2 separate regions of the Homo sapiens genome follow, and region 2 is linked to region 1. The links come from fine-mapping of genetic effects on gene expression. A gene starts in region 1. The other region holds a variant in brackets. All regions are shown on one strand. Distances are between the middles of the regions. Region 1 holds the start of STAG1-DT (STAG1 divergent transcript). Region 2 has its middle 39 kb from the start of IL20RB-AS1.

What was found. PIP is the estimated chance that this variant, and not a neighbour inherited with it, causes the effect.
Region 2: its variant is fine-mapped to the expression of STAG1-DT in putamen (GTEx, PIP above 0.99).

What each region holds. Positions count from the first base shown.
Region 1 is chr3:136,744,706-136,760,334 of GRCh38, forward strand. It overlaps STAG1-DT (STAG1 divergent transcript), which reads left to right and starts at 7,966. Exons shown (of 1, transcript NR_185911.1): 1 at 7,966-11,135. It overlaps STAG1 (STAG1 cohesin complex component), which reads right to left and starts at 7,673. Exons shown (of 34, transcript NM_005862.3): 1 at 7,490-7,673. RefSeq lists silencers at 6,997-7,376, 7,697-7,926 and enhancers at 7,118-8,049, 7,937-8,256, 8,050-8,981.
Region 2 is chr3:137,013,794-137,029,422 of GRCh38, forward strand. No RefSeq gene overlaps it. Among named protein-coding and RNA genes, the nearest start is that of IL20RB-AS1, 39 kb to the left of the region's middle. RefSeq lists a cis regulatory region at 1-997, an enhancer at 9,275-9,775 and a silencer at 14,091-14,291. The variant T/A (reference allele first, on the strand shown) is at 6,254.

The DNA of each region.
Region 1 (15,629 bases):
CACTCTGTCACCTACGCTGGAATGCAGTGGTGCCATCTCAGCTCACTGCAACCTCCGCCTCCAGAGTTCAAGCAATTCTCGTGCCTCAGCCTCCCGAGCAGCTGGGACTACAGGCACATGCCACCACACCCAGCTAATTTTTGTATTTTTAGTAGAGACGGGGTTTCGCCATGTTGGCCACACTGGTCTCCAACTTCTGACCTCAAGTGATCCACCCGCCTCGGCCTCCCAGAGTGCTAGGATTATAGGTGTGGGCCACTGTGCCCAGCCACAACCAGCATTCCTAATAGAAAAGATCAGAAAATATCAGAGTGCACTGCATAAAGATAAAGTATTATTTCATGAAACTTATTTTCATTGTGTGTGGATGTGTGTGTTTGTACTAGGCTACAATGTAAAATGTTTTTGTAACTGCTAGCAGAAGCTAGAAAACAAGTTAAAAGCCATTGCTATTATGTTTACAGCAAAATTCCATTGAAATTCTTGGACAACTAAATGGTACATCATTTTGGCCCATAGCACAAAGGAATGTATTTCATAAAGAAGGTAAGACATTCTCACATAACCCATAAATACATACACCTACTATGGACTCACAAAATTAAAAATAAATAAAAAACAAACGGGGGGCAGGGAAGAAGGCAAGATTTATGACATCCTTCACTACTGACTGGCAAAAAGGAGTAGCCATCCCCAACGTTTTTGGTACCAGGGACCAGGTTCGTGGAAAAAAATTTTTCCACGGATGGGGTGGGGAATCAGAAGGTTTCAGGATAAAACTGTTCCACCTCAGATCATCATGCATTAGATAAAGCACGCAACGTACATCCCTTGTATGTGCAGTTCACAATAGAATTTGCACTCATATGACAATCTAATGCTCCCACTGATCTGACAGGAGGTGGATGGAGCACAGGTGATAAAGCTAGCTCACCTGCCTCTCACCTCCTGCTGTGCAGCCCAGTTTCTACCAGGCCAAAGACCAGTATGGGTCCACAGCCCAGTGGTTGGGGACCCTTGATTTAGAACACAGGTATCCAATCTTTTGGCTTCCCTGGGCCACATTGGAAGAAGAATTGCTGTAGGCCATACATAAAATACACTAATGATAGCTAATAAGGTAAAAAACAAACAAACAAAACAAACCTCATAATGTTTTTAAAAAGTTTATGAAATTTGTGTTGAGCCACATTCAAAGCCATTCTGGGCTGCATGCAGCCCATGGGCCACAGGTTGGACAAGCTTGATTTAGAAAAGGAGGAGAAAAATCTGAGGGAAGCAATAAGGGGTATGTTATATAAAGAAAAGATTCTATAAAACCAACTGAATTATAAGACACTTTCAGCACTAAAAGGCAGGAAGCTGACTGTCCCCTTAACCACCAAAATAACAGAAAACTTCCTACAGACACAATTCTAATTCCTTCAAGAATCACCTCATTCTGTGGCTTATGCAAGAATATCATTTTAGCTCTCTGCTTCCTAGTTTTTCCCTACCACTCTAGCAAGAATCATCTAAATTCTAAAGATTTATATTTTTATTCAGTCAACAAAAATTTACCAAGCCCCTATTATATCATTTCTGTGTTAAAATATATCTCCCTAGCAATTTTAATTCCCAGTTATATCCTTTAAAGCAAGGGTGTCCAATCTTTTAGCTTCCCTGGGCCACACTGGAAGAATTCTCTTGGGTCACCTGTAAAATAAACTAATTATAAATGATGAGCTAAAAAAAAAAACTCACAATGTTTTAAGAAAGTGTATAAAATTGTGTTGGGCCACGGGTTGGACAAGCTTGCTTTAAAGCTTGATTATCCTTGGCTAACCTGTCTTAATTGCCTCTTCATGAAAATATTTTGCTTCTTGGACTGCTAAACCGTATGCCATGACTAAACTTCTGCTGCCTTCTTTGTTCCACCAATAATACCCCTACTCTGAGACTTGCAAATAACTATTCTCTTCATAAGAATTCTCTCCTCAGTCGGGCGCAGTGGCTCACTTTGGGAGGCCAAGGCAAGCAGACTGCCTGAGGTCAGGAGTTCGAGACCAGCCTGGCCTTAGGCAGGTGCTGAAACCCCGTCTCTACTAAAAATACAAAAATTAGCCAGGCAGCCAGGCACAGTGCCTCAAGCCTGTAATCCCAGCACTTTCGGAGGCCGAGGCAGGCGGATCACCTGAGGTCAGGAGTTCGAGACCAGCCTGACCAACATGGAAAAACACTGTCTCTACTAAAAATACAAAATTAGTTGGGTGTGGTGGCACATGCCTGTAATCCCAGCTACTCAGGAGGCTGAGGCAGAAGAATAACTTGGATCCAGGAGGCAGAGGTTGCAGTGAGCCGAGATTGCACCACTGCACTCCAGCCTGGGCAACAAGAGTGAAACTGTCTAAAAAAAAAAAAAAAAAAAAAAAAAAAAAATTAGCCGGGCATGGTGGTGCGTGCCTGCATTCCCAGCTACTCAGGAGGCTGGGGCAGGAGAATCACTTGAACCTGGGAAGCGAAGGTTGCAGTAAGCGAAGATCATGCCACTGCACTCCAGCCTGGGCGACAGAGCAAGACTCGTCCCAAAAAAAAAAAAAAAAGAATTCTCTCCTCAAAAGCTGCTAGACCAATCACACCACAGCAACTGTCTGACGCAATGATTGTGTGACTCTGCCACTTAAGAGGAGTGTGATCCAAGGCATTTAAATTCCTTAACTTCGGCCACACACACTGGCTCACGCCTGTAATCCCAGCACCTTGGGAGGCCAAGGCGGGCTGATTACTTGAGGCCAGTAGTTTGAGACCAGCCTAGGCAACATGGCAAAATCTCATCTCTATACAAAATACAAAAATTAGCCGGGCGTAGTGGCATGCACCTGTAGTCCCAGCTACTCCAGGCCCCACCTGAGCCTGGGGAGGTTGAGGCTGCAGTGAGTGAACTGTGACTGCACAACTGCACTCCAGCCTGAGTGACAGAGAGAGACCCTGTCTCAAAAAATAAAAAATAAATTCCTTAACTTCTCTGAGATTCAATATCATATCAAAAACAGGTAAAACAAAAGGCATCAAAGAATGGCAAGAATTACGTAATTTTTTTTTTTTTTTTGAGACGGAGTCTCACTCTGTCACCCAGGCTGGAGTGCAGGTGGCACAATCTCGGCTCACTGCAAGCTCCGCCTCCCGGGTTCACACCATTCTCCTGCCTCAGCCTCCCCGGTAGCTAGGACTACAGGTGCCCGCCACCACACCCAGCTGATTTTTTCTATTTTTAGTAGAGACAGGGTTTCACCGTGTTGCCAGGATGGTCTCGATCTCCTGACCTCGTGATCCACCCACCTTGGCCTCCCAAAGTGCTGGGATTACAGGCGTGAGCCACCGCGCCTGGCCAAGAATTATGTAATTTTTAAAAAATAAAAATAACTGGCCGGGCACGGTGGCTCATGCCTGTAATCCCAGCACTTTGGGAGGCCAAGGTGGACAGACGGTTTCAGGTCAAGAGTTTCAGGTCAAGAGACCAGCCTGGCCAACAAGGTGAAACACTGTCTCTACCAAATATATAAAAAATTAGCTAGGTGTACTGGCACATGCCTACAGTCCCAGCTACTCGGGAGGCTGAGGCACGCGAATCGCCTGAACCCAGGCGGTGGAGGTTGCAGTGAGCCTAGATCATGCCATTGCACTCTGGTCGGGGCACACTCAAAAAATAATAAATTTTTTTTTTTTTCCTGAGACGGGGTCTCACTCTGTCACCCAGGCTGGAGTGCAGTGGCGTGATCCCAGCTCACTGCAAGCTCCGCCTCCCAGGTTCAAGCAATTCTCCTGCCTCGGCCTCCTGAGTAGTAGGATTACAGGCAAGTGCTACCACGCCTGGCTAATTTTTGTATTTTTAGTATAGACAGGGTTTCACCATGTCGGCCACGGCCAAGCTGGTCTGAAACTCCTGACCTCAGGTGATCCACCCACCTCGGCCTCCCAAAGTGCTGGGATTACAGGTGTCAGCCACTGTACCAGGCCAATAATAGTAATTTTTTTAAATTTTTTAAAAAGGTGTTCTTAGTGGCAGAAATGAAAGAAAAAATAATTATACAAACTCCCTTCTCCCATTGCCTCCCTTCTTTATAACGTTTTAAATTTTCGTTTTTATTTTTAATTTCCTCTCAATGCAATAAAATTATTTCATAGAGGAAGGCATGTAAACTAAGGTACCAGGAAACGGGAAAGGAAAAAAGGTGAGGAAAAGGCAATATAAGTAAGAGTAAGCTGATCAAGTGGGGTTACTGCTCTGCCTAGGTCCTCTCCTTGTATGTCCGGAATCTGAAGAGGTAAATGTGAAGATACTTCTTTTCCTACGGCAGGCAAAATTCTTAAAAGCCTCCACTAACCCACACCCTTGTATCATGCCCTCCCCTTGAGTGTGGGAGAGACCTGTAGATATAACGGGATATCATTACGGTGATTATATGACAAAATATATGTTTGCATATGTAATTAAGGCCCTTAATCAGTTAAGTTTACCACAAGGGCCTCAGAGCTTAGCTGGTGAGCTTTTAAAAAAGACCTTAAAGGGGGGAGTCAGAGGTCAGACACACAGGAAATAGGGAGACTGACTCCTGCTAGCATGGATAAAAGCTAACAGCCATGTTGTGAACTATGTGGCCACACGGCAAGGATCTGAGAGCAGTCCTTGGCCAACAGCTAACAAGAAGATGGGGACTTCAGTCACACTATCACAAGGAAATTAATTGTGCCAACAAGTAGTGACCTTGAAAGACAACTCTGGCCGGGCACAGTGGCTCACAACTGTAATCCCAGCATTTTGGTAGGCTGAGGTGGGCAGATCACGAGGTGAAGAGATGGAGACCATCCTGGCCAACGTGGTGAAACCCCGTCTCCACTAAAAATATAAAAATTAGGTGGGCATGGTGGCACGCACTTGTAGACCCAGCTACTTGCGAGGCTGAGGCAGGAGAATCGCTTGAACCCAGGAGGCGGAGGTTGCAGTGAGCCGAGATCACACCACTGCACTCCAGCCTGGTGACAGAATGAGACTCCATCTCAAAAAAAAAAAAAAAGAAAAACAACTCTAAGCCTCAGATATGCACTGCAATCACAGCTGACACCCTGATTTTAGCCTGAGATGCTCAGCTATACCTCCCCAAACTTCTGACCTATGGAAGCTGAAATAATTGTTAATCTGTTAAGTGTGAAATTTGTTATGCATTAAAAAAAAAAAGAAAGAAACTAATATACCCCCCTAAATAAAGATATAAAGATACAGGACAAAACAACAAATAAAAGGGGAAACAAGAACGTATCTTTCCCAGAGTACATTATTTCTTCTCACAGCACTGAGATTATGAACATACACAGAGTCAGAATCAAGGAAAAAAAGATTAAAACTGTACAAAATTCTGTAAATTTTAAGTTACAGCAATTAAATGTGTGTTTTTCACAGACATCTTGTTACACAATCACCGTAAGATACTATCCCCATTTTATTTTATTTTTTTAAAGAGATGGAGTCTTGTATGTTGCCCAGGTAAGCCTCAAACTCCTGGGTTTAAGGGTTCCTCCTGCCTCACTACAGAGTAGCTGGAACTACAGGAGTGCACCACTGGGCCCAGCTCCCCATTTTTAGAGATAAAGAAAGTAAGGCTCAAAGGTAACACCCTGAACACCACAAACCCAGGGGACGTTCAAAGTAACTTCGGTCCAGGACCCACTCCTTCTCCCCTACACCATAGTGCCTTTAAGGCTTTAAAAGAGCCAATCAAATCTACAGTCATTTTATTAGTCTCTTCAAAGGAGGCAATCCTAGTAACACAACAAACTTCCATATTTTGCATCTATTTAAATATTCCTTAGCCTTATCAGAACATCGAAACTGAAGTGGATACAGAAAAATTTCCACTCAAAAGCAGTTCGTTTGTGAAAATGACCACTGGTAGATCACTTGAATTAATTTAGTTTACTCGAAGTACGTTTTAAATATGTAAAGGAAAATGCGTGGCAAAACACCTGTAGATCTTCTACAACTTTATTTGGGTAACAATTTGTCTTATAAGTATTCTTAATCATCAAAAGCAAGGAAATAACATTTCTGCTTCTTTCCATTCCATATTTCCCTACTTGGTTAAAATTTTTCAGTCTGAATTCCTCATACATTATGAATATTAGAACAAGGTACGTTACATTACCATACAATAAACAAGTTATTTTTATTTTCACTCTTCTGTATATTTCCCTAAGTGCTTCACCATCGGAATGTGCAATTTTCTTAAAACACGAGGAAAACTAAAATGTAGAGTCATTCAAATTCCAGATAAGTTACAAATCACACAACTTTGTGCCAATTCAGATACTTTCTCAAGTAAACACTATTTTTGCGAAGATGCAAGTCTTTCTAGTCAGAATCACGAGAATAAACTCTATCCATCTTAACACCAACTTTAACAGCAAATAATTTTTTTTTATGACAAATTGCGTTTTTTTTTTTTGTTTTTTTTTTGTCTGTAAGTGTCCAAAACTATCCTATGACTTATACTCCCGGAGCACGATTCCCTGCAATGTGAAGAGAATCGACAGATAACATTTCAAATGTGGGTAGATGGGGGTGACGTGACAATCCTAAAACCTGAAAATTTCTTAGTACCCATACCATACAAGAAGAACCCAGTTCGGACCCTGCAAACGGGGCTCAGGTCCAACTCCAAGCACTCTAGTTTCCCACCCCGCCCCCACCTCGAGAAAGGAGGGAAAACAACTTTTATTGGCCTCGTCTCTCAGGGGACTGGCAAACTAGCGGGGCAGTGCTTAGGCCTGGACACGTTTCACAAGGAGGCCCCCGTCGGGGGCTGAGAGGGCAGATAGCTGGAAAGCCCAGCATTGATGCATCTCCCCCAGCCGCCACCCCGCTGCCCCACCCCGCCAACAAGAAGCCTGGGCCAGCCGCCCCGCCGAGCGACCCCCCAGGCCCCTCCGCTGAAATGAACTCGTTGTCATGTGACGCCGCCGCCGCTAAAACACCGCAGAAACGCAGGTCGGCAGGCGGCGGAAGGCATTCGCGCCAGCCCGCGTCGGCCCGGCCCCGCTGGGCGCGGGCGACTCCCGAGAGCCCGGGCGGGGGGGGGCGGAGGGCGGGCTTGGCGGCGGGCCCGAGCGCGCCACAAAGGCTTCCGCGCCTGTCGCCGTAGTGCCCGGGCGGGCGGGGGCAAAATTTTTGGTGCCCGCGGGAGGGGTGGCAAGCGACGAAGACGCCGGGGTGCCCACCGCGCCCACAGACGTCTCTCCGGGCACTCGGACGGCCCACGACCGCCGCACCCCGCACAGGCCCGCGCGGCCTCCCTCCCCCGCACGGGGCCCGCGCCCGGCCCGCCCGCTCGCCGCTCGCGCTCTCTCGCTCTCGCCCGGCCTCCATCTTGGATCGGCGCTTCCAGCCCCCGCGCCGCTGCCGCCGCATTCCCCCTCTTTCCCGCCCCCCGCCGCCGTCGCCGCCGCCCGCACTCACCTCAGCTGCCCATCCGGGCGCCGCCGACCATCGACCTAGTTTCCCCCCAAAAGTCTCCGGTGTGTTATTCCCGATGTGGGGGGGTTGTTACGGGGTGGTCGCCGGGGGTTCGGGAGCGGGGGCCGCGCCTTCAACGGAGCTGCAATCCTAACCCGCCATCTGGTGGCATTTTCCACACGCCAATGGCGCCGCTGCAGACTTGGGTCCGGACCGCCCTCTGCTGGCCGCGGTGCTCACTGCCTTGCTGACGGGACGGGCCTGCCCGGAAAGGGGAGGGAGCTGAGGCGCGAGCTAGGGGCCGCGGCAGGGGCGCGCGCAAACGCTTTCCAGTGGGGATTGCGCGCACGCGCACCAGCGGGGCGGGAAACGTGGCCGCTGCGTGGCGGCCCCGCCCCCACACGGAGCGCTCGCGCAGTTCAGCCAATCGCGAGAGGCGTAGGCTTCTGGATAAGGGCGCTGTGGACGGTTCTTGGGCCGCCCGCGGCTGGCGGAAGGACGGCCACGGTGGCGCCTGCGCGTCCGGCTCGCCGAGTTGCCGCCCGCCATTTTTGGAGCTTCTTGGAGATCTAGGCAGGAACCCGCCCCGGGTTCCTTCACCGAGGCTCCTCCCTAGGTCTCAGGGCCGGCGCTTTCCTCTGTTCCCGCCCGGCTCCTGCTGCCCCCATCCGCAGCTCTCGAGACGCCCTGCGGAAACCCGAGGGTGAGGCCGCGCAGATCCCTGCTCCTACTTGGATTTAGCAAGGGCCTCAGAGCTTAGCATTGTATTCGCGATTTACGGCTGACAAGCGCTTTCACCAGGCAAGAGTGAAAAGGTTTCAAAAGGACTATTGGGGACTTCCCTCGCCATTAATCTAGACGAAACACCGCCGGCCCTAGGCCGATTGGCGTCATCCTGCCTCTGTAAAGCACATCTTTCCGTGGTGTCGGCTTTGCATAAGGCGGCAGCATTGGCTAGTTTGTGAGAGGAGAATATAACTAGACTGAGAAGATAGACTCAGCTGTGAAAGTGGATTTCTCCCTCCACAACCTAGGACTACTTTCAGTAGCTCTGAAATACACATGAGAATCTTAGCCTTCTAGATGCCAAAAGAGAAATAATCAGTAAGGTGAAATCATTAACAAACTATTTATGTTTAACGTCGCCTCTTCCCTGATCTCCACCTGCCCGTCCGTGGCCATGGATCCCTACCTTTCACCTGCTTACAACTTTTCACCACAAAAGTGAATCCTTACTCTCCTGGATCATTAGCCCCATATATGACTAACTTCTCTATCGCTATAGCCAACTCTATTTCAGTATGGAATCGCTCAACTACTTTATAGTCTTAAGGGCCTGTCTCCAGTAGGTTACCCCTATTTGTGTTTTCTCTCTCAAGGGTTTGCAAGATGTGTGGCTTTTCGCTGGAGGAAGTCATAACTGACCAGATTGGATATGAATTCGTGACTGGACTCCTACTTATAATTTTCTTGCGTTTTCTTCTAATCTCTGGCTGATCTCCTATTTTCCACAAAGACTGTTTCAAGCTTTCCATGTTGTTAAAGATGCCAGTCCCAGTCCATACTAATAGATAAATTCATCCAGTTTCCTGGGCTCAGAGCTATGGGACTCCAATTCCGGTTTGACCTTGCCTCCATTATAAAATATCTGTGACCACCTCCTGTTCGTGATCCCAAAACTTCTAACCAAATTAACCCAGAACCCTTCTCTCCAAAGCCACTCCCTCTGCCTGAAACTATGCCATCCCTTCCCACCTTCTCCTTCCACCACTACTTTCCTAGCGCCTTATAATGTAAATATGTTCTTATCCACTGTCTTCTTCCTTTCTGTTTCTCAGAAGTTTCTGTTGTCTTGGCTGGGTGCGGTGGCTCACACCTGTAATACCAGCACGTTGTGAGGCAGAGGCGGGCAGATAACATGAGGTCAGGAGTTCGAGACTACCCTGGCCAACATGGTGAAACCCTGTCTCTACTAAAAATACAAACAGCCAGGCGTGCTGGTGTGCGCCTGTAATGCCAGCTACTCGGGAGGCTGAGGCAGGAGAATCTCTCGAACCCGGGAGGTGAAGGTTGCAGTGAGCCGAGATCACGCCACTGCACTCCAGCTTGGGCGATAAGAGTGAGACTCTGTCTCAAAAAAAAAAAGTTTCTTTTGTCTTTTTTTTTTTTTTAATTCAGTGATGTTACTCCCTCCAGTTGCTATGCTATCAACGTTCCTTTCATTGACACATTCTCAAAAGAAACAGTTACGGTTTTCACCAATCCCCATCCCCTACTTGAAACCCTTTTTCCCTTTCTTTTAAGACACTTCCCCGGATCTACACCTACCTAGTTTGCTGGTCTTCTGATTTCTTTGCTAGCACCTCCTCTTTCTTCAATCTGTTCTCTACTACATGCCTTCTCTTAGGTCTCCCAAAATTAGTCTGTTCTTGATTTTTCCTTAACTGAGTTTCCTCGTGTTCAGCTACTTGCCAGAAAGCTGCAGCTCAAACACTTAAAATAATTCATCTCTCTTATTTGAATTTCCTAATTTATCCTAACATTGTAATTTCAGCTAGTGTAGTGATTAAGAACATGAACTGTGAAACCAGACTGCTCTGGAAAGCTTTGTAACCTTAGACAAATCTCTTTCTGTCTCAATTTCCTCAACTGCAAAATGGAAATAGCAACAGTACCAATCTCATAGGGTTGTTACGAGTGTTAAACTATTTAACTATTTAATATTTAAACTATTTAATATATTATAGAAATGCCATCAGCATTATTACATTTATTGTTTTTAATCTTACTAAGAAGTTTTTAGCATTTTTTTAACTCTGAGGGCATGGGTAATCAACTTTCTAAGTTTATAGAAATCTAAAATTGTATTTTGCCCTCACACTTAATAATTGATTATAAGTCATTTTTATAATCAATTTTATAAATTGTTTATAAATAATTACATAGCAGCCTAGGCTCTAAATTGTAGGGCCAGACTTGATTATTTTCTTTCAAAAAAGCCTAAGTCCCACCATACCTCATTCAGATGGCTTGCTTTTTTTTCTACTGCTGCCATCCTTATTCAAACCCTTCTCCCCTCCCATTGCCTTACACCAAAACTATTGCACTAGCCTTGTAAACACCTCTCCCTTCATTCACCTCCCTTTTGTTTGTGTTTGTTTGTTTGTTTTTGAGACAGGGTCTTGCCGTGTTGCCCAGGCTGGAGGGCAGTGGTGCAGTCATAGCTCACTGCAACCTCTGACTTGGGCTCAAGTGATTCTCACACCTCAGCCTTGCTAGGTCCAGAAGTAGGTGCCATTGACCCACCTTCCCTCTACTCCCCACTCCTGCTTCACTTCTCTTTTTAAAATGCAACATTGTTATACCTACACAAAAGCGTTCTGTGATTCCTATGGCTTAAAAGATATCATCTAAAATAGTTAATGACATTCAAGGCATGCCTTGATATTTTTTCATTTTTTTCTCTATTTCATTAGAAATTATTCACACTAGCTGACCTGTCTGATTAATCATAAATGTAAGTGAAGGGCAGATTTATTCATCCTTTACCTATCTGGTAAGATAAAGTAATAAAGGTCCCATAACATGTTGACTTTGTTACAGAATTACACATAAAAGCAGAGGCTGCTTTTAAGAAATTCTTCCCCACCCCCACCCTCCCTGGACAGAGTTTTGATCTTGTTGCCCAGGCTGGAGTGCAATGGCGCGATCTTGGCTCACCGCGGCCTCCAGGTTCAAGCGATTCTCCTGCCTCAGGCTCCAGACTAGCTGGGATTACAGGCATACTCCACCACGCCCAACTAATTTTATATTTTTAGTAGAGACGGGGTTTCACCACGTTGCCCGGGCTGGTCTCAACTCCCGACCTCAGGTGATCAGCCCACCTCGGCCTCCCAAAGTGCTGGGATCACAGGCGTGAGCCACTGCGCCTGGCCAATGAAATTCTTAATCAAGATTCCAATTCTCTTGGCAAGGATTTTCAAACATCACAATTTTTATTAACAGCTTCAAGTCATACATATGATCAAAATATTATTGAGGCACAGTAAAACGATTCCCCAAAATACAGCACTTCAGCATGCTCAATGCTTTGAAAATTGAACGGCCTCAGAACCAAGGTCTGTCTCTTACCTTTCCCTGTCTCCCTGATCCTCTTTCCCGAAGCACCAAGGGTACACTCTCTTTGGAATTTCCTTATCTGACCAAGAAAGCTTTTTTCCAAAAGAAAGGCAATGTTGGCAGGGCAGGGCATGGTGGCTCATGCCTGTAATCCTAGCATTTTGGGAGGCCGAGGCAGATGGATCACCCGGGGTCAGGAGTTTGAGACCTGCCTGGCCAACATGGTGAAACCCTGTTTCTACTAAAAAAACAAAAATTAGTTGAGCATGGTGGCGCATGCGTGTAGTCCCAGCTACTGGGGAGGCTGAGGCAGGGGAATAGCTTGAACCTGGGAGGCGGAGGTTGCAGTGAGCTGAGATTGCACCACTGTACTGCAGCCTGGGTGACAGAACGAGACTCTGTCTAAAAAAAAAAACAAATAAATAAAAAGAAGAAATGCAATGTTGTAAAACTCCCTCCCTAGTAATCTCATCAAACAACCAGGAAATATCAACCACTAGAGAATAGATTGACAGTCACTATGACCTGACAGACTTTTCATCTGTTCTTCTGAGGGCAGCCCCAAGGGATTACCTGGAGGACTTTCTCTGCATAATAAGACAATCTTTGTTCCTGTGCAGCTCTACACCTCACCTTCCCATTAATGTCTGCCTTCCACCTCCAAGGTCCATTTGTTCTCCCTAATGACTTGCTGTCACTCAAAAGAATTTCTACATTCTCCATCTCCCCCTTCCCTTATGAAAAAGGGTATATAAGTTTCTTTACCACACTAAATAATAGGTAATCACTCTGGATTATTCACACACACACGTTAATTTAAAAAGTTTGGTGTTTCTGAAACAGGATCTCACTCTGCCACCCAGACTAGAGTACAGTGGCACTATCACAGCTCACTGAAGCCTAAAAGTCCTGGGCTCAAGCGATCCGCCTCAGCTTCCCAAGTAGCTGGGACTACAGGCACACACCACCATGCCCACTAACTAAAAAAAAAAAAAATCTTTGTAGAGATGAGGTCTCACTGTGTTGTCCATGCTGGTCTCAAACTCCTGGACTCAAGCAATTCTCCCTAACTTGGCCTCCCAAGATGCTGAGATTACAGGTGTGAGCCACTGCGCCCAGCCTAATGTGACTGTCGTCAGTTAATTTTTCAGCAAACCTTCAGCAGAGGGAAAACTTCCCTTTGTTATTACATATAAAAGTTTTCCCTTCACCCCTACGATATGAAAAATAATGTAATTCTTCAGACACATGCCCATCAGAACTTTAATTCAACTCAATCTCTTAGCCAACCTGGTCCAAAAGTAGATATTTAATGTTATAAATAGAAAAAAAAATGCATTCTATAGCCTATGAAATGGGAAGACATTGAACAGGGGTTGCAATAGTTTAAAAGATTTTTATATAGTGTTGTTTTACTGGGAGCTTTAGATTGCTTTTCTTGTTTTCCTTGCAAATATACCAAATTGTGTTTCTGAAAATGCATTAGTTCTAATTAACATTTATTAACCAATAACATGAAGAACTTTGCTTTATAACCCAAAGAATGAGTTTCTGATTGTGTAGATTGCACAGTTTCTTTAAAATTTGGGCCAGACTTATGTCTTTTTCTCTCTGGATAATTTTAGCACACAAAAGATTTCAGTTATTCTATTGGCCTTACAGTTAGAGTAAGACACATTAAATCAACTTTTTTTGCGTGAGGATAATGGTGATATTTCTTACACAGAAAGGATTTTTAAAGTAAAATTTGGGCCGGGCGCGGTGGCTCATGCCTGTAATCCCAGCACTTTGGGAGGGCAAGGTGGGCAGATCACTTGAGGCCAGGAGTTTGAGACCAGCCTGGCCAACATGGTGAAACCCCATCTCTACTAAAACACAAAAATTAGCCGGGCGTGGTGGCGCACACCTGTAATCCCAGCTACTCGAGGGGCTGAGGCAGGTGGCAAGAGAATCGGTTAAACCCATGAGGCAGAGATTGCAGTGAGCCAAGATTGCGCCACTGCATTCCAGCCTGGCTGACAGAGTGAGACTCCGTCTCAAAAAAAAAAAGAAAAGTAAAATTTGATTCGTCATTCTTCCCTTTCCTTCCCCTTTTTCAGAGTTCCAAGTGCAACTGCTCGATATCTAGAGCAAAGAGAGGTCTTCTGATCAAGCTTCCTCACCCTTCATTTTTACCACCTCCACAAACCCTGTGTTTCAGGGATCATGACCACTGTCTCATCTTAATCTCCCCCAAATCAAGTATTCCTTTGCATTTTTCACTTGGTCACAAGGCATTTGTTCTTTCTTACGTTGGTAGACCTTTGCAATTATCAGAAATAATTTTCCCTTCTTTTCTACTCTTGCAATTAAGGTGTGCTGCCAATTGGTGGCAGTAATATGCCATGGTGTCCTCCCTACTGGATTTAAACCATTATTTTTCCTTTTTTTTTTTAATTTTTTTTCTTTTTGGAGACAGAGTCTCACTCTATTGCCCATGCTGGAGTGCAATGGCGCGATCTCAGCAAACTGCAACCTCCGCCTCCTGGGTTCAAGCAGTTCTCCTGCTTCAGCCTCCCGAATAGCTGAGATTACAGGTGACTGCCACCATGCCCGGCTAATTTTTGTATTTTTAGTAGAGACAGGGCTTCACCATGTTGGCCAGGCTGGTCTCAAACTCCTGACCTTAGGTGATCCGCCTGCCTCGGCCTCCCAAAGTGCTTGAATTACAGGCGTGAGCCACCGCGCCCAGCCTAAAAACACTATTCTTTCTACAACTGAGCAAGCAGCCAGGCCCAGTGACTCACACCTGTAATCACAGCACTTTAGGAGGTTGAGGCAGTCAGATCTTTTGAGGCCAGAAGTTCAAGACCAATCTGGGCAACATAGGGAGACCCCATCTGTATAAAAAATAAAAAATTAGCTGGGCAGGATGGCGCACACCTGTAGTCCCAGCTACTTGTGAGACTGAGATGGGAGGATCACTTAAGTGAGCCATGATCATGCCACTGCACTCCAGCCTGGGTGACACAGCAAGACCCTTTCTCAGATAGGCAGACAGACAGATGTATAACTAAATCAATAAATTCTGCCCCGTTCTTGGTAATAAGATGGTAAGAGGGATCCAGAATACCTTCCCTTTCAGAATCAGTAACCTGGTTATAGGCAAAACTCTATTCTCAAAAAGCAGAGGATCGGAATTGCTCAGATATTTTTTTAAAAAGAAATTTTGGCCAGGCGCGGTGGCTCACGCCTGTAATCCTTACCCAGAACTTTGAGAGGCCAAGGCGGTGCGGATCACAAGGTCAGGAGATCGAGACCGTCCTGGCTAACACGGTGAAACCCCGTCTCCACTAAAAATACAAAAAATTAGCTGGGCGTGGTGGCAGGCTCCTGTAGTCCCAAATACTTGGGAGGCTGAGGCAGGAGAATGGTGTGAACCCGGGAGGCGGAGCTTGCAGTGAGCCGAGATCATGCCACTGCACTCCGGGCTGGGTGACAGAGCGAGACTCCATCTCAAAAAAAAAAAAAAAAAAAACTCACAGGCAGAGGGCTGGAACTAGTGTGGGTAGGAGCTAAGAGTTATTATTATTTAGAGACTCAAGTGCCAGTAGAACAACCGTTTTCTTAGTCCAAGTTTCTTGATGTCCTTGGGATTCCACTTTATGGCTTATTTCAAAAGACCTGTATGAGGCCTGGACTACTTTGAGGAATCATCCTTTTTTTTTTTTTTTTAAAGTCGGAATCTTGCTGTGTTACCCAAACTGGAGTGCAGTGGCATGATCTTGGCTCACTGCAACCTCCGCCTCCCGGGTTCAAGCGATTATCCTGTCTCAGCCTCCCAAGTAGCTAGCATTACAGGTGCACACAACCACACCCAGCTAATTTTTGTATGTTTAGTAGAGACAGGGTTTCACCATATTGGCCAGGCTGGTCTCAAACTCCTAACCTCAGGTGATCTGCTGGCGTCGGCCTCCCAAAGTGTTGGGATTAGAGGCGTGAGCCACTGCACCCCGGCCTGGGAATCATTCTTGATAGAATAGCT
Region 2 (15,629 bases), 270 kb after region 1:
GTCAAGGGGTTCGGTGGAAAAGTCTTTTAAGTTCCCTTCACAGAAGAATTGTAGACTCTGCCGGTCTAGTCTCTGGGCCAACCCTCCCCGTCTCTTTAGTAAAGATGTTTTTTATTATTTTCCTTGTGCCGTGTATTATCCTTAGGCTAGAGTAACTTTCCGGGCCTGCAGACCTCTTGGTTTCCTTTCAATCTGGAGGACTTGATCCCATGGCCAGCTTCGGAGCTCACCAGGAGGGGAAGACCCATTACATCCACGGGCGTCTGGCGCCACCTTGTGGTCAGTGCTGAAAATGTTTTCTGTTCCCACTCGCAATGAAACTCCCTGGGCTTCCTGGATGAAGAAAGGAAAGCTCAGGTCGGTTTCCTAGAATAATAACTCAGTTACACAGTTTCCACGGGCTTGGTCCTTAACAAACCTCCACTGTCACTGGTGGAGTTAGAATTTAGCAGCCACCTTCTCCTCGCTCTGTGTCTGTATCTGTCCCGAGCTCATGGTTTGGGGCTTCACGCTGTACCCACGGCTCTCGCTCTTTTCTGGGACCTTGGCCTCTCGCACTCTCCTGTCTGTTGATCTTTCCACCATGCTGCCATTCCCTACCTCTCGGAAATAGACTTTTTTTGGATGTCTTTTTGTTTTCCTTCTGTGTGACCTATTTGTAGGATCCCTTTACTAGACTGACTTTCCAGGAGTGTTCCTCAGCCCCCGCACAGATCAGTAGGGAGGAGCCTGCCTGCTGCTTGCTCATGCTAAACCAGCGTGCTGCCCAGCCTGTGAAGTTTGGAACTGGAACACTAGAGTTGGCCCCAAATTACAGCTTTCTCTTCTGGCTCCTGGGACTCCCAGTTTCTTCAGCAACAACAACAAAACCTGGAAAAACGTATCCTTGCCAGAGGTGGGAGAATGAGGCTCACAAAAGGAAAACACGGACCTTTCTTGTCTCCCCCAGTGAGAGGTTGCAAGATCAGGTTGTAAAACCCCATTAAGGAGGACCTTAGAGGAAGAACTGAGCAAGGAGCCTTCTCAGGTGCCTGCAAACATCTCCAAGAGCAAAAGTATAAATCCTCATATTGTGGAGGAGGTACATGTTCCTGGTTCCTTCACTGGACCTCACTGAGAAAATTAAACAAACAACAACAACAACAACTACGTTAAAAAACAACCCCACAAAAACAAAAAAACAAAAACAAAAAAAACCCTGGTGGCCGGGCGCGGTGGCTCACGCCTGTAATTCCAGCACTTTGGGAGGCCGAGGCGGGTGGATCACCTTAGGTCAGGAGTTCGAGACCAGCCTGACTAACATGGTGAAACCCCGTCTCTACTAAAAATACAAAAATCAGCCGGATGTAGTGGCAGGCGCCTGTAATCCCAGCTACTCGGGAGACTGAGGCAGGAGAATCCCTTGAACCCGGGAGGCAGAGGTTGCAGTGAGCTGAGATCCCGCCATTGCACTCCAGCCTGGTCAACAGAGCGAGACTCCGTCTCAAACAAACAAACAAACAAAAAAACCATCCTGGCGTTTGGAGAAATGAGTGCCTGAACAAACCTCAGTAACTTCTAAATTTTGCCTCTGTACCTAAAACAGCTCCTCTAGGAAGTGGCCACATGCCTCCAAATTTCCTGGAGATGCCAGCCAGTCTTCTATGAAATTGCCTCAGTATAAGATTAGGCCTACAAAACATCATCTTGAGTTTCTGGCCCTAGGAGATCACAGCCCAGAAAGTAGGCCCCTCTGATGTCATCCCACCTGCATCAATCACGAGGACAAGCTTTCCCAGGTGAAATCATTTCATTGACATTAACTGCTCACTGTCTCACTTGAACTTTTTTTTTTTTTTTTTGAGATGGAGTCTTGCTCTGTCAACCAGGCTGGAGTGCAGTGGTGCTATCTTGGCTCACTGCAACCTCCGCTTCCCCGCTTCAAGCGATTCTACTGTCTCAGCCTCCTGGGTAGCTGGGATTACAGGCACCTGGCACCATGCCCAGCTAATTTTTGTATTTTTAGTAGAGACAGGGTTTCGCCGTGTTGGCCAGGCTGGTCTTGAACTCCTGACCTCAGGTGATCCGCCTGCCTCAGCCTCCCAAAGTGCTGGGATTACAGGCATGAGCCACTGCGCCCTGCCTCACTTGAACTTTTGAGTCTTGCAATTGGAAATAGATCAAAATGGAATAGTTTTCCCCTTTTCTTGGCCTCACCCCAGATCAGGCCTAGATTATGGAGGGCCAGTGAGGTGGAACGCTTACTGTGTGTTTTTGTTTTTGTTTTTGTTTTTAGACAGGGGTCTTGCTCTGTCACCCAGGCTGGAGTGCAGTGGCGTGATCTTAGCTCACTGCAACCTCCATCTCCCGGGTTCAAGCGTTTCTCCTGCCTCAGCCTCCCAAGTAGCTGGGATTACAGGCACCTGCCACCACACCTGGCTAGTTTTTGTATTTTTAGTAGAGACAACGTTTCCCAATGTTGCCCAGGCTGGTCTCGAACTCCTGGCTTCAAGTGATCTGCCCGCCTCGGCCTCCCAAAGTGCTGGGATTGCAGGCGTGAGCCACCGCCTGTGTTTTAAATGAAGAGTTTCAGTTTAGCTGATGGCAGCAAATAGAAGCTGAAATTTAAATACAAGTAACATTAAGTAACATCTCCCTCTGTTGCAACTTTGGGTTGACAAAGGCAAGGCTCAGGTTAAAGAACTGATAAAAACTTGGTCATGAGGTGTGGGTCTCATCATGTTGCTTAAAAACAAAAAGCCCAGCTTCCAGAGATGTGCATGGTGTTGATTGTGGCAGAGGGTATGAGAAAGTGGGGCCCACTCTTTTCTTTGGCTAATGACTCATTTAAAAACTCATTTGTCACCTAAAACATTTATTCCAAAATTGGGATTTTTAAATTAAATGCTATTTAAAACTTCAGAAAGGAATTAAAAACTTGATAATTGAAACAGGTGATATGTCAATTCACCTTTTAAATTCAAATAATATAGTTCAGAATAAATCATAAAATTTGGGAAGAATTTGGATTTCTTCACCAACACTAAATAGCTATTGCATAAGTGTGTGCTGTAATTGTAAACACTGGTGTATTTTACAAACTGGTTTTATTGGAATCCATGTAGTCTGAAAATTGTATGATTCTGTAAAAAAGTTTCCACTTGAACTTTCTGAGAACGGTTTAAAGGTGAAATAATCTGATACACTTCTCTGTCAATAAAAAATAAATCATGATATAATTGGACATATCTGCTCATGTGTTTTTTTTTTAGATGGAGTCTCTCTCTGTTGCACAGGCTGGAGTGTGGTGGCACCATCATGACTCACTGCAACCTCCATCTCCTGGGTTCAAGCAATTCTCCTGCCTCAGCCTCCAGAGTAGCTGGGATTACAGGTGCTTATGTATTTTTTTTTCTTTTTCTTTTTTTCATTATACTTTAAGTTCTAGGGTACATGTGCACAACGTGCAGGTCTGTTACATATGTATACATGTGCCATGTTGATGTGCTGCACCCAGTAACTCGTCATTTAACATTAGGTATATCTCCTAAAGCTATCCCTCCCCCCTTCCCCCACCCCACAACAGGCCCCCAGTGTGATGTTCTCCTTCTGTGTCCAAGTGTTCTCATTGTTCAATTCCCACCTATGAGTGAGAACATGTGGTGTTTGGTTTTTTGTCCTTGTGATAGCTTGCTGAGAATGATGGTTTCCAGCTTCATCCATGTCCCTACAAAGGACATGAACTCATCCTTTTTCATGGCTGCATAGTATTCCATGGTGTATATGTGCCACATTTTCTTAATCCAGTCTATCATTGATGGACATTTGGGTTGGTTCCAAGTCTTTGCTATTGTGAATAGTGCCTCAGTAAACATACGTGTACATGTGTCTTTATAGCAGCATGATTTATAATCTTTTGGGTATATACCCAGTAATGGGATTGCTGAGTCAAATGGTATTTCTAGTTCTAGATCCTTGAGGAATCGCCACACTGTCTTCCACAATGGTTGAACTAGTTTACAGTCCCACCAACAGTGTAAAAGTGTTCCTATTTCTCCACATCCTCTCCAGCACCTGTTGTTTCCTGACTTTTTAATGATTGCCATTCTAACTGGTATGAGATGGTATCTCATTGTGGTTTTGATTTGCATTTCTCTGATGACCAGTGATGATGAGCATTTTTTCACGTGTCTGTTGGCTGCATAAATGTCTTCTTTTGAGAAGTGTCTGTTCATATCCTTTGCCCACTTTTTGATGGGGTTATTTGTTTTTTTCTTGTAAATTTGTTTGAGTTCTTTGTAGATTCTGGATATTAGCCCTTTGTCAGATGGGTAGATTGCAAAAATTTTCTCCCGTTCTGTAGGTTGCCTGTTCACTCTGATGGTAGTTTCTTTTGCTGTGCAGAAGCTCTTTAGGTTAATTATATCCCATTTGTCAATTTTGGCTTATGTTGCCATTGCTTTTGGTGTTTTAGACATGAAGTCCTTGTCCATGCCTATGTCCTGAATGGTATTGCCTAGGTTTTCTTCTAGGGTTTTTATGGTTTTAGGTCTAACATTTAAGTCTTTAATCCGTCTTGAATTAATTTTTGTATAAGGTGTAAGGAAGGGATCCAGTTTCAGCTTTCTACATATGGCTAGCCAGTTTTCCCAGCACCATTTATTAAATAGGGAATCCTTTCCCCATTTCTTGTTTTTGTCAGGTTTGTCAAAGATCAGATGGTTATAGATGTGTGATATTATTTCTGAGGGCTCTGTTCTGTTCCTTGGTCTATATCTCTGTTTTGGTACCAGTACCATGCTGTTTCGGTTACTGTAGCCTTGTAGTATAGTTTGAATAGTGATGCCTCCAGCTTTATTCTTGCTTTGTTCTTTTGGCTTAGGATTGACTTGGCGATGCGGGCTCTTTTTTGATTCCATATGAACTTTAAAGTAGTTTTTTCCAGTTCTGTGAAGAAAGTCGTTGGTAGCTTGATGGGGGTGGCATTGAATCTATAAATTACCTTGGGTAGTATGGCCATTTTCATGATATTGATTCTTCCTATCCATGAGCATGGAATGTTCTTCCATTTGTTTGTATCCTCTTTTATTTCATTGAGCAGTGGTTTGTAGTTCTCCTTGAAGAGGTCCTTCACATCCCTTGTAAGTTGGATTCCTAGGTATTTTATTCTCTTTGAAGCAATTGTGAATGGGAGTTCACTCATGATTTGGCTCCCTGTTTGTCTGTTATTGGTGTATAAGAATGACTGTGATTTTTGCACATTGATTTTGTATCCTGAGACTTTGCTGAAGTTGCTTATCAGCTTAAGGAGATTTTGGGCTGAGACAATGGGGTTTTCTAGATATACAATCATGTCATCTGCAAACAGGGACAATTTGACTTCCTCTTTTCCTAATTGAATACCCTTTATTTCTTTCTCCTGCCTGATTGCCCTGGCCAGAACTTTCAACACTATGTTGAATAGGAGTGGTGAGAGAGGGCATCCCTGTCTTGTGCCAGTTTTCAGAGGGAATGCTTCCAGTTTTTGCCCATTCAGTATGATATTGGGTGTGGGTTTGTCATAAATAGCTCTTATTATTTTGAGATACATCCCATCAATACCTAATTTATTGAGAATTTTTAGCATGAAGGATTGTTGAATTTTGTCAAAGGCCTTTTCTGCATGTATTGAGATAATCATGTGGTTTTTGTCTTTCGTTCTGTTTATATGCTGGATTACGTTTATTGATTTGCGTATGTTGAACCAGCCTTGCATCCCAGGGATGAAGCTGAGTTGATCGTGGTGGATAAGCTTTTTGATGTGCTGCTGGATTCGGTTTGCCAGTATTTTATTGAGGATTTTTGCACTGATGTTCATCAGGGGTATTGGTCTAAAATTCTCTCTTTTCTTTTTATTGTGTCTCTGCCAGGCTTTGGTATCAGGATGATGCTGGCCTCATAAAATGAGTTAGGGATGCTTATGTATTTTTAATTTAAACTTTATTGAAGTATATCTGGTTGTATTGTTATGGCATTTTCATTTCACCTTGGGAAGTTTGAATTTTCTATAGAGTTAAGGTAGTTGGTAATTGTGTTTTCCAAAGACTTCTGAGAATTTGGAAATCTACACTCTATTGGTCTGTAATTAAAATAAGGATGACAGCAATATATATGAAGCAAAGTCTACATTTTTATTCATAAGTCAAAAGAGAGTTTGGGCCAAAATCTTAAGATACTGCATTTATAGCTACTATTCTTGGCTAATCATAAAGAATCTGATCCTCCTGTGAGAAAA[T/A]AAAAAACTTTGGTTCTGGGTCAAGAAACTACTGATTGGGAGAACCATTTTGATTTTTCACTGAAAATCTTGATGTAATAACACATACCTGATATATTAGGTTGGTAAGGGGGTGTAGAATATTATAAAAGGAGGGAGAGCCTATAGCTCATAAAAAGGAGCAAGATAAATTAAAAGCTTGGAAGATAAGAACAGAATTAAAAAGAAAAAGAAAAAAACAAACAAACTCCTAAACCTGTGAAAGTAACATGGGTTTGATAGATAAAATGTCAGGGGCAAAACTGGCTAATTCAGCCAGAAATCATGTGTGCCAATCTGGATTATACCCATGTATTAAACCATTGTAGATGGAGAAACACAACCGTCATGCAGAATATTGGCCACTGCGCTGCTGGAGGCTCCTCTATCACCTCACGGTAGGGAGGATCCCCTGTTTCCTGGTGGCTGCCAGTCACCCCCCTCTAGAGCTTTGGTCTGTCAGCTGTTCTGATGCCAGGGCTCTCAAACTGCAAACAAACGAGAACAGATGAGCCAAAGCTCTATACAGAGCCAAAGAGTCAGAGGTTATGAATGAGTTTAGAGCAAAGAGATTTTTAGCAAATCCTTAGTGGAATGCCGTCTAAAAATAAACAAAAAAGAACTATTAGAAAAGTTGAGCTGTATTTGATAATTGGAAAATTTGCATTAATGTTGTAATATTATTTTAGAACTAATTTTTCCAGACAAATAAGTGATCATTTATTTTGTTAGAAATCTAGACTTCTTAGCATAGGAGAAGAGGAACTACAATTGCAGAATCAAGAATTTGAGTAGGTGATGAATATTTCAATTACACTGATTTAATCTTTACCAGTGAGGTGAACGTATTAAATTATCACATGTACCCTGAAAATATGTACATCTATGACTTATCAATAAAAAATTAAAAAAAAATAAAACCAGAATGGCACTGATGTTTCAAACCAAGCAAAAAATACCTTAATGGAATTCATAAAACTAAAATTTCTAAAGAAAAACACTCTATCCCATAAATATGTACAATTATTATGTGTCAGCTAAAAATAAAAGAAAAAAGTAAAAAAATAATTTGATGAGGAACACTTTATTGTTAGAACTGGACTGAAAAAATCAAGATAAATTCAAGCTTTTAAAAGAACAAAAATAGTAAATTAAAAATACGTATCCTTTGTCTCTCTGTCTATTGAAATGCCCAGGAGCCATGTCACCTCACAATGCACTTTGGCACCCACATTCTGGTCTCTAATGCTCTTCTTACCAAAAGCGTCTTGGGAGGAATGGCATATTCCATACTTTGAGCTGGAAATTCAAGGAAATCCTAAACACTGAACAACAAGGCCAGAAATCAAGAAAGTTTGAATAAATTAGTAGAGTCAAAAGGACAGAGGAGCCATCTAAAAGGGGTTCTGCTGGCCAAAGTTGAGGCAACTTGAATGTCAAAAGGAGAGTATCGGCTGAAGCCAATGGGCATATGGTGGATTGGAGAAGCCATGAGTCCAAGATGATACATAAAAGGAGCAAAAGACTACGAGTAGTAAGAGAAAATGGAGAAAAAAACAGAGGATTTGTCAGCCAGGCGCGGTGGCTCACACCTGTAATCCCAGCACTTTGGGAGGCCGATGAGGGCAGATCACGACGTCAGGAGATCGAGACCATCTTGGTTAACACGGTGAAACCCCGTCTCTACTAAAAATACAAAAAATTAGCCGGGCGTGGTGGTGGGCTACCCGGGAGGCTGAGGCAGGAGAAAGGCGTGAACCTGGGAGGCAGAGCTTGTAGTGAGCCAAGATCACGCCACTGCACTCCAGCCTGGGCGACAGAGTGAGACTCTGTCTCAAAAAAAAAAAAAAAGAGGATCTGCCAAGTCATTTACATGTTGGCATGTTGGTATTATGTTGGTGTTAGTGATTCGTCTGTTGTGTAGATGAAGAAAACAAAAACTAGGAAACACAAATACATCAGTCAGAAGAAGTTGTATAGCTCAAGGGGAGTATGAGTGGAATGACCCTGTAAGTTGCGACTTTGAGTCACACAATGCCACATAAAATATCACAATTAAATTGGGAAACTGATTATACTCTTGCACTAGAAGGACCCATAACACTGATGCTTAGGAATTGAAGTTTGATGGATTCCGGCTGCTGGCTGGTGGTCAGTCCCCCTCATTTCTTAGTGCATGGGGATCGTTAAGTTAATAGTAAAAGTCCTGCTGAAAAAAAATTTTTCCACAACATTGATCAAAAAGAAAATTCTCTTTCAAGAAATAAATTAACTCAAACTTCATAATAAGCCTGTACAAAGCTGACAAACTGGGCAATAAGTGTCATTAATTCCAAGAGTATTTAAGTATTTAACTTCAGTCAGAGCACGAACACACTCACACACATACATACACACATACGTATACACACATACACACATACATATACACACATACACATACACACATACAAATACACACATACACATATACACACATTCACACTCATACATAAATACATACATATATAAATGTACACATATATAAACACACTTATACATCAATACACACATATACACACATGCAAGTATACACACACACACACATACACACGCACACTTTGAAATGCCCTGAAAACTTACAGTTCATATTGTTAACTTATTTAAAAAACGCCAAAATTTATAAATTTAGAAAAGGAGAGATCTTTTGGATCAACATGTAGAAATGAGATTCGGACTCAAAAAAAAGTTTTCAATAGGACTTTTCTAAATTTCTTATAAAAGGTTACAGCTTGCAAGGTGGCCATCCCACAGGCTGGAAAGCCTGCCTCTGGCCAAGACCAGAGACAGGCACTTTGAAGAAGGAGGGGTTGGGATAGGAGCTTTATGCTGAAAGGATTGGCTAAACACACATGTTCCACAGTTACAGGTTCAAGCGATTCTCCTGCCTCAGCCTCCTGAGTAGCTGGGATTACAGGTGCACCACTATGCCTGGCTAATTTTTTTGTATTTTTAGTACAGACCGGGTTTCACCATGTTGGCCAGGCTGGTCTCGAACTCCTGGCTTCAAGTGATCTGCCCGCCTCAGCCTCCCACAGTGCTGGGATTACAGGCTGCCCTGCATTCTTACTGCTATGCTGTTCCCTGTTCTTTCTCAGGGAAGAAGGTCCTCACTGATCCCCTTCCAACCCAGCCCCTGAGCTTCGTGACCTTCCCAGCTCCAGGTTTCCACCAGTAACCAGTTTCTGGATCTGGGCCCCTTGGTTCAAATTCTTTTGAAAGAGAATCTGTTTGAGCCAGCTCATGGGTTGATGTCTGTCCTGGGTCTAGATAATTTTGGCTTAGAGGGCAGGGCCAAAAGCAAAGGAGGATCTGAGGAACGGAGACAAGCCTGGTGGCTGCCACTATCCAGGCAAGGGCTCCCAGAGGGAGCATGGACAGACCTGTGGTCAGGGCCAGCTTCATGGCATGTGGCCAGTGCAGTTGCACTCTGAGCTCACAAGGCTCCCGCCCCCTTGGATTTTAGTGCTCTGTGGTTACTGTTTCGAAATTCTTAATTTTACCTTTGAATTTGTGTTTTGTAAGTGAAGTCCAATGGGACAATGCAGTGTGCCAGGGGCTTGGAGGCTCAGCTGACATGTGGGCCCACCTTGCACTGCCTCCTTGGCATGGGTTCTCAGCCACCCGCTCCCCTGCCCCTGGCTCCGTGTGTGACTGACCTCCTCTTCCCTGCCTCCACCCCAGGACCATTGCTGCTCTCCACCTCTGCAGGGGCCTAGGTGGGGGCTCAGAGACTGCTGGGTGCTCACACTTTGTGATGTCTTGGGGCATGGCATGGTGGTAGCTGTCTTTACTTCAGGCTGGCATTGCTATGATGTGTCTGCGCCTCTCCCTACCCCCTATCCAGGTACCAAGTGCATCTCAGCATGGAGGTTTAGAGATCCCTGGGGATCAGCCTTATGCTGTGTGTTGGGGCTGTGAGTCTGTGGGAAGTGGAGGCACCTGCTTGAGTTTTCCAGGCCCTACCCCCAGGTGAGACTAGGGGCACTGGCTGGCTGGTGGGAGGTGGAACCCACAGGCAGGCAGTGTGCATATGCATGTGCGCTGTGTCACAGGGTGGCCCTGTGCCTGGGGAATCCTCCCTTCCTCCTTCTTTTTATTTATTTTTTATTTTTTTTGAGACAGAGTCTCACTGTGTCACCCAGGCTGGAGTGTAGTGGCATCATCTTTGGCTCACTGCAACCTCTGCCTCCTGGGTTCATGCAATTCTCCTGCCTCAGCCTCCTGAGTAGCTGGGGCTACAGGCGCTTGCCACCACGCTCGGCTAATTTTTGTATTTGTAGAAGAGACAGTGTTTCACCATGTTGGCCAAGCTGGTCTTGAACTCCTGACCTCAGATGATCCACTGGCCTTCGCCTCCCAAAGTGCTGGGATTACAGGAGTGAGCCACCATGCCCAGTCCTCTCTTCCTCTTTCTATACTTCCCTGAGTCTGCCTTGGGTGTGCCTCTTCTGGCCAGCTCATGGCACCCTCTGGGGACAAGCCATGAAGGAAGAACTGTGCAATTTCGGTGATTCTGCACCAGCTAAATGCTCTGGTATTTGCATTTAAAATTGTCATTGCACACTATAAAATGAGCAGCAAAGAGACTGTACTAACAGTTTTAATTTTTTGACTTTTTTTCACTTAGAATACCATTAAACAGCAAATAATAATTAAAAAACCCACCATGACAATCCTAGAAAGAGATCACAAAAGAAAGGAAAAAGCTTTCCATGCACCTTTAATGACACTTTTTCTACTTCATGCATGAGGGGCCTCACAATGTACCTAGCTTGTGCTCAATGTGTGCAGCCAATGAAGGAAACGGAGGAGTCCAGGGCCGTGGGGCAAGGATGATGAGTTTGTGTTGGGATGTGTTGGGTTTGGGGTGCTGGATGTCTGGAAGGCTGTAGGTGTAGCAATCCCAGCACAGGTGATTAGCAGCATTTTATGCCGCTCAGAGAGGAGGCCCCTGGGTTTGGTAGGAGAGCTGTGTTAATAGTGGGCAGCTGCGTGTCCCACTGAGGAGTGGAGGGGTGGCAGCCCACTCCTTCCAAAAGCATGGATGCAGGAGGGAAGCACCAAGGAGAGCAAGTCAAGGTTGGCTGGAGTAGGGGATCTCAGCATGCTAGAGTCAACTGGGGAGCATTACAAAGGGCAGATGCCTGTGCCTCGCTCCGGATCATTTGAAGAAAAATCTCCTGGGGTGGGTGTGGTCATCTGCCATTCAAAAAATCACAAACACATACACAAACAAAAAGGCAATAAGAAATGGAAAACAGCTCTGGGTTGTGCAGAAGGATGGTGGGTTCCGAAGCATCAGGATGAGGCTGCTCTTGTTTAGAGATGCGTTTTGGTCCTGGTGTAGCTGGTTTCTTGCTGTGTGACCTTGGACAGTTCACTGTCACTTTTCTCACCCTTATTTTCTGTCCCAGTGAACAAGGAGCTTGGACCAGATTGTTGTGGAGGGGCACTGGGCTCTGACTGTCTGTGGGGACAGGGGTCTCTTTACCTGTCCATGCTGCAGGCCTTCCTTACTCCCCACAGCCCTGGTCTGCTGTGGGCCCAGCACCAGCCCTTCTCATCCTGCCCAGAAAAATGGACACTTCTCCATAAGAGCTGATGTAGTGGGGACCAGCTCAACATTCTGGAGAGTCACAGTGCCAGAGGAAGCGGAGCAGAGGGACTGGCAGTGTGGCTTCCAGACTCAAACTACCCATGTTCTGACTCGATCACTTAAAAGTTATGTGACCTTGGACAAATTCCTTGGCCTCTCTGAGCTTTGATTCCTCACCTGGAAAATGGAGCAAATAACAACATTTCCCACATTAGGATAGGGAGAGGATTAAATGAGACAAGCGTGCAATGTTCTTAGTGCTGTGGCGGGGGTACAGTCAGCACTCAGTGATTCCAGCCGACTGGAACTGACTGTAATCCAGCCTTGCTGCTTGGCCACTTGCTCTGCTTTCAGACAGGGTGATCTGTGGGTTCTGAGGCTTGTGGGCTACACTAGATGGGCTGCTTCCATGCCAGACTAATACAGTTCCCGAAACATCCAGGTTACCTCCTGGGGTGTAGACTCCCCATCTGCCCCAGTGAGCTGTGCCCAGGCCCCTCTTCTTGCCCCTCTTACCTGAATTGGCTGTTGGAGCTTCCAGGCTTGGGAAGCTCAAGCCAGGCTGGGTTGGTGGTGTAGCCATAGGAGAGAGCAGGAGCTTGTGAGCAGCACCACTGAGGCCCAGAGTCTTCTGAGCCCTTTAGGGCAGAAGGGAGAGTCTGGTCTATGTGATACCAGCATTTACACCTGAGATTCTTATCCAAAAGTCCTGTGTCCACAGTCAAGCCTCTGGGGTGAGAAGGAGGGCTTAGGGAGGCCTCTGGCATGGTGGCTTCTTAGAATATTGAGCCAGACTCTCCAACATCAGTTCTCTTGGAGAGGTGTCCACTCTTCTGGGCAAGACAGGCGAGAGAGGGAGGGATTCCTGCCAAAGCCACTAATAAACAAATTCCTCCCATCACTGAGTGAAGATGTTGCCACTTTGGAAATGGGCTTGTCCACTCTGTTGGAAGGCTGAGATGTCCTGGTGGCTGGGGCCTACATCTTGCTCAATAGTGTCTGAGACATGACTGGAAGACATCTGCTCAAGATGGTGGAGTGAGCACACATCAAACCCTCTCTGTAACTGCCTCGAAACCTGGAGGAATGATGGGGACACACACATACTCTTTCTTTCCCTCTCTCTCCGTACTAAGAATGAAGAGTAAACTTACAGGATAAGCTGGTTAAGAGTAGCCCAGGGGTAGAAGGAGTTGGATATACATAGGCTGGCTTTAAAGCTTATGTGAGAATGGGGATGAACATGCCTATGCTTGGCAGGAGACCCGACCCATGCTCCCTCCATGTAGCTGGGGTTGAAAACACTCCAGAAATGTGCTGCTTGCTCATGGTGCAGGAAGAAAAGGGCACTGATGTAAATATGAGAACCAGGCTGGTGCTGCACATGGGTGCTGCATCAGAAATATTTTTGGCTGAGAACCAACACCCCAAACTCTATAACATGAGACCTGCTCCTGGGTGTGCAAATCAGGAAGAAAGGGCTCAGGCAACCGCAAAAGCACCTAACGTGGAAGAGTCTGTCCATCAAAAAAGAATTCCCACGCAGAATGAGCTATAAAACAAAAATTGCAAAGGACATGTCAAAATTTATCATGAGGCATACTTCTCAGGCTTAAGAAGCAAAATTAATAACAGGAGAGGTGGAAATTATGAACCATTTGAAAGGATGATAATTAGTCTCACAGAAAGTCTCTCATCCTCCCTTAAAATTTGTCTAGTTGGGGGCAGTATTTCCCCTACCAGTGGATGACTTTCTGATCATTCCTGGGTAATAAAATGCTTGGTAGTCACATGAAACCATGGTTTCAATTCACGTTAAAATAGTCTATTCCCAGATAGGAAAATAGTCTGAACTTTTTTTTTTTTTTTTTTTTTTTTTTTTTTGAGACAGGGTCTTACTCTGTTGCCCAGACTGGAGTGCTGTGGCAGGATCACGACTCACTGCAGCCTTGACCTCCTGGGCTCAAGTGATTTATCCTGCCTCAACCTTCCAGCAGTTGGTACTACAGGTACGTGCCACTGCACCAGCTAAATTTTGTATTTCTTGTAGAGACAGGGTTTTGCCATGTTGCCTAGGCTGGTCTTGAGCTCCTGAGCGCAGGTGACCCACCTGCCTCAGCCTCCCAACGTGCTGGGATTACAGGCATGAGCCACCACACCCGGCCCACTTTAAACTCTTGTAAAAGATAAAGCCTCTTTGGTCTCTAGCAAGGAGCTTTCTTACTTCAGGGAGGGGTGTGGTCAGCTTCTCTTTTTTTCCTCCTCCTCCTTTATCTGTTGCTGTTGTGCACCCACCTGGGATTGGAGTTCCAGAAGGGGAGAGGGATTGCAGCACTGTTCACAAGAGCCAAGATTCAGAAGCAACCTGAGTGTCCATCAACAGACAAATGGATAAAGAAAATGCGGCACATACAGACAATGGAGTACTATCAACCATAAAAATGAGTGAGAGCCTGTCATTTGCAACAACATGGATGGAATTGGCGGTCATTATGTTAAGTGAAAGAAGCCAGGCACAGAAAGACAAACTTTGCATGTTCTCACTCGTCTGTGGGGACTAAAAATTAAAACAATTGAAGTCATGGAGATAGAGCATGGAAGGATGGTTACCAGAGGCTGAGGAGGGCAGTGAGAAAAAGTGGGGATGCTTAATGGGTACAAAAATAGAGTCAGATAGAATTAATAAGATCTAGTATGTGATAGCACAATGAGGTGACTACAAGTCAACAATAATTTATTGAATATTTTAAAATAACCAAAAGAGTATAATTGGAATGTTCATAACACAAAGAGATACATGCTTGAGGTGATGGAAACCCCATTGACCCTGATGTGGTTATTACACATTGTATGCTTGTATCAAAACATCTCATGTACCCCATAAATATATACACCTACTATGTATCCATAAAAATTAAAAGAAAAAAGAAAGGAAGAAGGGAACTGGGCTCAGGAAGGTCTTACTTGATTGGAACAGTTGAAGGCTGGTTTTGGCTCTCTGGGCCCTGTTGAGGTTTAAAGCTGATTCTTTCTCCTATGGGCACTTTTGTGAGTTTTTTGTAGGCATCCCTGCTGAAACTCAGACTGTCACTCCTATGATGTAGGCAACACATTTTTTTTAAAACTTTATTCCTTAGCCTCCGGTTTTCCTAGACGCCGCCTTCCACTCTGCATTGCAGGCTGTTTGGCTTCCTCAAGGTGAGCCAGGCTCCCACCTTCTTTCTTCCTTAGTGGCAGGGACACAAACCAAGCTGTCTGCATGGGACCCTAAGCTTGGGGCTAAGAGGTCATCTGCTCCATTCCACCCTTTCCCTGGGGCCATGAGACTCAGAGGGCTTCAACAGCTCTCTTCAAAGACATCCTCTTCACATGTCCTTGGAAATGTCTAACAACTCAGTCCTTTTCATATGCTTTCAAAAGGTGGCAGGCATGATTTTTAAATATGACTTTTAGTCTGGGTGTGGTGGCCCACACCTGTAATCCTAGCAGTTTTGGAAGCTGAGGCAGATGGATTGCTTGAGCCCACGAATTCGAGACCAGCCTGGACGACATGGCAGAACCTCATCTCTACAAAAAATTAAAAAATTAGCCAGGTGTGGTGACATTCACCTATAGTCCTAGCTACTCAGGTGGCTGAGTGGGGAGGATCACCCAAGCCTGGGAGGTCGAGGCTACAATAAGCTGTAATCACACCACTGCACTCCATCCTGGGAGACAGAG